Linked DNA regions of Homo sapiens: region 2 is linked to region 1. Evidence: fine-mapped expression QTL. A gene starts in region 1. The other region holds a variant in brackets. All regions are shown on one strand. Distances are from middle to middle.

Evidence for each region. PIP is the estimated chance that this variant, and not a neighbour inherited with it, causes the effect.
Region 2: its variant is fine-mapped to the expression of LINC02395 in nasal epithelium (TOPMed, PIP above 0.99).

The regions. Positions count from the first base shown.
Region 1 is chr12:49,910,815-49,913,723 of GRCh38, forward strand. It overlaps LINC02395 (long intergenic non-protein coding RNA 2395), which reads left to right and starts at 1,139. Exons shown (of 6, transcript NR_110048.1): 1 at 1,139-1,269. It overlaps LINC02396 (long intergenic non-protein coding RNA 2396), which reads right to left and starts at 1,049. Exons shown (of 2, transcript NR_146570.1): 1 at 1,000-1,049.
Region 2 is chr12:49,919,334-49,922,242 of GRCh38, forward strand. LINC02395 (long intergenic non-protein coding RNA 2395) reads left to right here. Exons shown (of 6, transcript NR_110048.1): 2 at 2,593-2,909. Among named protein-coding and RNA genes, the nearest start is that of LINC02395, 8.8 kb to the left of the region's middle. The variant T/C (reference allele first, on the strand shown) is at 1,501.

The sequences.
Region 1 (2,909 bases):
GCCATGCTTCCCAGCTGCAGGAATTGCTGGGTCAGGTGTGAAACCACATTTCTGTCCCTCCTCATCTCTGTCTCACCTCCCCTGCTCCCCACACCTGGGCTTTGCTGGGAGTTGGGGCTGAGGCTGGAGCAGTCCTCACTGAGCACAGAAGAGCCAGGCCCCAGGCTTGTCATCCCAGCCTCACATTCCAAAACTCTCAGCCGCATCAGCTCACTCCTTGGTAGGCCTGGCACAGGCCCTCTGCACGTTAGAATAACACAAAAAAATCAAGTTTTCAGGTAACTAAAGTTCTAGGCCAGGCTTAGCCCCTCCCTTGCAGCAGGCCCTCGAAAAGTCAGTTCTTTCCCCAGGGTCTCACGGGTTCTGTTGCCATCGCATGTGCCGCTATGTGCATACATTTCCGTTTCTCCACCAGATGGAAAGTGCCTTAAAGATATGGGTTGTGTATCTCAAGCCTTCCTGCTCCATCCCTTGACCTGGTAGAGTTCAATATTGAAGAATACAGGGTTTGGGGTCAGATCAATCTGGGTGCCAATTCTGACTCTCCCAGTTACTAGATGATTGACCTTAGGTAAATCTGAGCCTCAGTTTCCTCATCTTTACAATGGGTATCCATGAACTGATTTACTTATTCAAACAATATTTATGAGGGCCAACTCCATGTCAAACACTGATGTGTGTACAACAGTGACCACAACAGACACAAATCCCGGCCCTGTGGGGTTACTTCTTAGTGGAGACTATTGGTGCCTGGCCCAGAGAGTGATTGTGAAAACTCAGTGAGATGACATTTGGACAGGGCTCAGCACATACGTCATATGTCAGCCTGGCATACGACAGGCCTGACAAGTTAGAGCCATTATTGTGAACATCCATTCTGAACCACAGAACCATTTGCTGAGAATTTACTGTGTGCCGGCACCATGCTAGGTGCTAGGGAGACAAAGACGTGGAACTCTCATCCACACCCTCAAGGAACTTATAGTCGAATGCACCTACCGAATGTCAAATGCCACCATCCTCATCATTGTTCAGAAGCTTATAACCAGCACCAACTTGTATTACATGCAACAAAGAACCATGACATTCTAGAATGTCAGGTACAACAGAGACAGCTGTTTGTCCCCCAGTATCCTTCAGACAAAGCCATATATGATTGAAGGTTATCAGTACTGTGCTTTTGGAGGATTCAGAAGAAGTTATATCTGATTGGGAGATTGAAAAGGATTGGCCTGAAGGAGAGGTGGTTTTTGAACTGCATCTTAAAGGGTAGGCTTCAACAGACAAGAGACAGTGATGTTGGGGGAGGAGAATGAGGCCCTGCAGGGGACCAGAATGGTGTGCAAATGAAGGCGTGGAGGAAGGAAAACATGAGGCGCCAACTTTGAGCTGAATCCTAGGAAGAAGGTGGCCTAGCCCAGAGTGAGGTTGGAGGCTGATCCAGGCAAAGCAGCTGTATTCACAGGGACAGGAGGCAACTGTCTAAGAGGTGGGGTTTGAGGGACCCCCTTCCCAGCCGTCTACCCTTGGCCGAGACTATAACAGGCTCAATATTCCACCACTAAAAATTCATTTCCTTGAGTAAGCCTCCAGTAGGAGACAGACCATCCCCAGAGGAATAACATGAAAGGATAAGTCTGGGCCAAGGAGGGAGTGATGAGGAAAAGACAGCTGGGAACAGCGGAGAGCCAGGCGGGGCCAGGGGCCAGAGCCCTCAACTTGCCAGGCCTCTTGCATTACCCTACTTGTCCAGGCCATCCATACTGACAGAGCACTGCTCGGCTGTGGGAGGCAGGACTGGGTCACTGGAAAGGGGTGGGCAGGTGTCGGTGCTGTGTCCATGACCTCCCTTTGCCTGGCCAGGGCTCCTCAGCCCTTCCTGCTCTGCCTGCGGGACGTGGGCAGGGCCACGTCCACACAGCAATGCCATTTTTCAGTGCAGTTTGGCCCGGCAGCAGTGTGGGTCACTCCTTGTGTGCTTGGGTGGGGACCAGAACTCATTTATTCAACCAAGTGTTTCCAGCCCAGCCTGAGAGTCATGTCGTGAGCTAGGAGAGCAGAAGCAAGCAAGAGACCCCCTCCCCGCCCTCCAGGAGCTCACAGTCTAGAGGGGGAAGCAGGTCTTAAGTAAATAGCCACATGCTGGAGTGCAGAATCACACATGGCGAGTGCCTCAAAGCCAAAGCCCAAGCTGCCTTGTGGAAGAATAACAGGGCAGTAATGCAGATGGGTGGAGGAGCACGTCCGGGGGAGGCCTCCAGCAGCCCCGAGTGATGAGGTGGGGTTGGCGAGGGGATGAGTGTTCTAAACAGAGGGAACACCTGTGCAAAGGCTGTAAGATGGGGAAGTACCTGGGGCATCAGGCAGATCATGCCAGCCTTGTGGACAGGGGAGGGCTTTGGGAAGTTACAGAGTAAGGGAGGTTGAAGGGGTGGGCACCCACTCAGATTGGCCATTTAATTAATTAATTAATTTATTTATTCATTTATTTTGAGACAGTCTCACTCTGTCACCCATGCTGGAGCTGAAGTACAGTGGTACGATCTCAGCTCAGTTCAACCTCCGCCTCCTGGGTTCAAGCAATTCTTGTGGCTCAGCCTCCCGAGTACCTAGGATTGCAGGCATGCACACCATGCCCAGCTAATTTTTGTATTTTTAGTAGAGACAGGGTTTCACCATGTTGCCCAAGCTGGTCTGGAACTCCTGACCTTAAGTGATCCACCTGCCTCAGCCTCCCAAAGTGCTGAGATTACAGGTGTGAGCCACCGCATCCAGCCCAGATTGGCCATTTTAGAAGCCCCCCTGGCTGCAGGACAGAGAAGAGACACGCGGAAGCTACCGCTGCCATTATGGGAGAGGTGATGGTGGCCTGGGCTTGTGTTGGGCATTGAAGGTGGATAAAATTCACA
Region 2 (2,909 bases), 8.5 kb after region 1:
CCTCAAGCGATCCTCCCACCTCAGCCTCCCAAAGCACTGGGATTACAGGCATGAGCCACTGTGCCTTAAGGCTCTTTTATTTATTTATTTATTTTTGAGATAGGATCTCACTCTGTCACCCAGGCTGGAGTGCAGTGGCGGGATCTTGGCTCACTGCAACCTCTGCCTCCCAGGTTCAAGCAATTATTGTGCCTCAGCCTCCCAAGTAGCTGGGATCACGGATGTGCACCACCATGTCCAGCTAATTTTTGTGTTTTTAGTAGAGACGGGGTTTCACCATGTTTGCCAGGTTGGTCTCAAACTCCTGACATCATGTGATCTGCCTGCCTCAGGCTCCCAAAGTGCTGGGATCACAGGCGTGAGCCACCGCGCCCGGCCTTAAGTCTCTTTTAAATTATAGGTCCCCTTTTTCTCTTTTTCCACCCTTACAATGTATTTGTTGAGGAAACCAGGTCATTTTTGCTGTAGAATTTCCCAGAGTCTGGAGTTTGATTGCATCCCTAAATCTAGAGGCTTGAAAATCCTATAGTTTTCAAAATAATGAGCGAGTTCCCTAGCATCTCTGAAAGTGATCATTAATTTTTATCATAAACTTATGGATTTACATACATTTGAAATGTTTCAACACATTGCCATTATAGTTAGGGTATTTTGTTTTTCTTTTTTGTCTAGATGGAGTCTTGCTCTGTCATCCAGGCTGGAGTACAATGGCGCAATCTCGGCTCACTGCAACCTCTGCCTCCTGGGTTCAAGCAATTCTCCTGCCTCAGCCTCCCGAGTAGCTGAGATTACAGGCACCCGCCACCACACCCGGCTAACTTTTTGTATTTTTAGTAGAGACGGGGTTTCACCATGTTGCCCAGGCTGGTCTCGAACTCCTGACCTCATGATCTGCCCACCTCGGCCTCCCAAAGTGCTGGAATTACAGCTGTGAGCCATTGCGCCCAGCCAGTTAGGATATTTTTTAAAAATTGTTTTTCCAGCTTAAGTTTAGGGAGTAAGGGTGATTACAAGGGACAACATAGAAAAATTGAGAGAACTCTGGCTTTGGAGGCAAACAACCCGTGGGTGGAATCCTGGCTCCACCACTTACAAGCTGGATGGCTTTGGTCAAGTTACTTCACTTCTCTTTCCTTCTATTTCCCCACCCCCCGATAAGGAAATGATTAATAATAACTAACATTTCCTGAGTGCTTACTGTCTTCCAGGCATCGTGCTCAGCGTCTTAAAGACATGATGGCAATTTAATCCTCCTATCAGTTCAGTGAAGCAGGAGTCGTTATTATTGTCCCCACTTTAGAGATGAGGAAGAAACTGAAGCACAGGTGGTTGAGCAATTTGTCCAAGGTTACACACCTAGAAAGGGGCGCGGCAGGGACCTGAACCGGGGCAGTCTGACTCCACAGCCCACTGTCCTCTAGCGGTTGTTGTGGAGAAGAGAGAGGGTGATGGTGATGCCCTCCTGCAGGCCCTGATAGATGGGAAGACCAGGCCAGAAGG[T/C]GAGCAGGGCCGTCCCTGGCACTTCCCCTCAGGGATGGAGCACAGTCAAGCCTGGCGTGTGGGGGGTGCAACCCCTATTGCAGCTGCAGTCTCTCCCCTTCCCCAGACTCCCCCCTCACCTGCTGTGACCCAGACCCTTGCATAAGAACACAGCTGTTCTTGGTGAGTTCTGTTTCCATTGCCATTATGGTTCTCCTCCTAATTGTTTCATTAATCAGAAAGGGCTGATCAATGCTGGGAGGCCAAGGTGGGAGGATTGCTTAAGGCCAGGAGTTCAGCCTGGGCAACGTAGTGAGACCCTTCACCTCTACCCCCGCCTCTACCAAAAATTAAATAAATACAATTAGCTAGGCGTGGTGGCACATGCCTGTGGTTCCAGCTACTCAGGAGGCTGAGGAGGGAGGATTGCTTGAACCCAGGAGGTCAGGGCTGCAGTGAGCTGTGTTCTTACCACTGCACTCCAGCTTGTGTGACAGAGCAAAATCCTCTTGTAGTTGTGGGTGGGGGGGCGGTAGGCAGGGTGCAGGGAAAGAGAGAGAGAAGGAAGGAAGGAAGGGAGAAAGAGAGAGACAGAGAAAAAGAAAGAAGAAAGGAAAAGAAAGAAAGAAGAAAGGAAAGAAAGAAAGAGACGGAGAGAGGAAAGAAGGAAGGAAAAAAAGGAAGGAAGGAAGGAAAGAGGGAGAGAGAGAAACAGAGAAAAAGAAAGAAGAAAAAGAAAGAAAGAAAGAAAGAAAGAAAAAGAAAGAAAGAAAGGAAAAGAAAAGAAAGGAAAAGGAAGGAAGGCGGGAGGAAAGAAGGAAAAAAGGAAGGGAGGGAGGGAGGGAAAGAGAGAGAAAGGGCTGACTGCAGGAAATCTCCCCATCCCCATGCTTCTCCAGAATCAGCTGGCCTGGGGGGTCCTTGGGTCACCTTAGAGGGCAGAGATCCTGAGTGCAGTTGGGCAGAGTGAGGTATTGATAGGAACACTAAGGATAGTACTAACAGTCATCATTTACACCTCGTGTGTGCCAGGAAGGGGCCAGGTCCCACATGATCTCAGTTCATCTTTACAACACCCTGAAGGATGGTCTTGTTATCTTCTCCATTTTGCAGATGAGGAAACTGAGGCTGAGAGGGTAGAGAACTTTGCCTGAGGTCACTCAGCAGGTAGGTGGTGGAGCCAGGGGTGTAACCCGGGCTGCGGGCCTCCACATCAGATACAGACAGAACAGGAAGGTGTTGCAGAGGCTGGCGATGCTGCGATTCTCTGGGTAGCAAAGGGAGGGGACATTCCCAGCAGAAGGAACGGTTTGTGTAAAGGTGTGGAGGTGTGATACGGTGTGGCCTGTTCAGGGTGGTGACTAACAGTGGCCAGAGTGAAGGGTGTGTAGAGAGGAGTGCCAGCAGATGAGGCAAGGGGCTGGGGACTG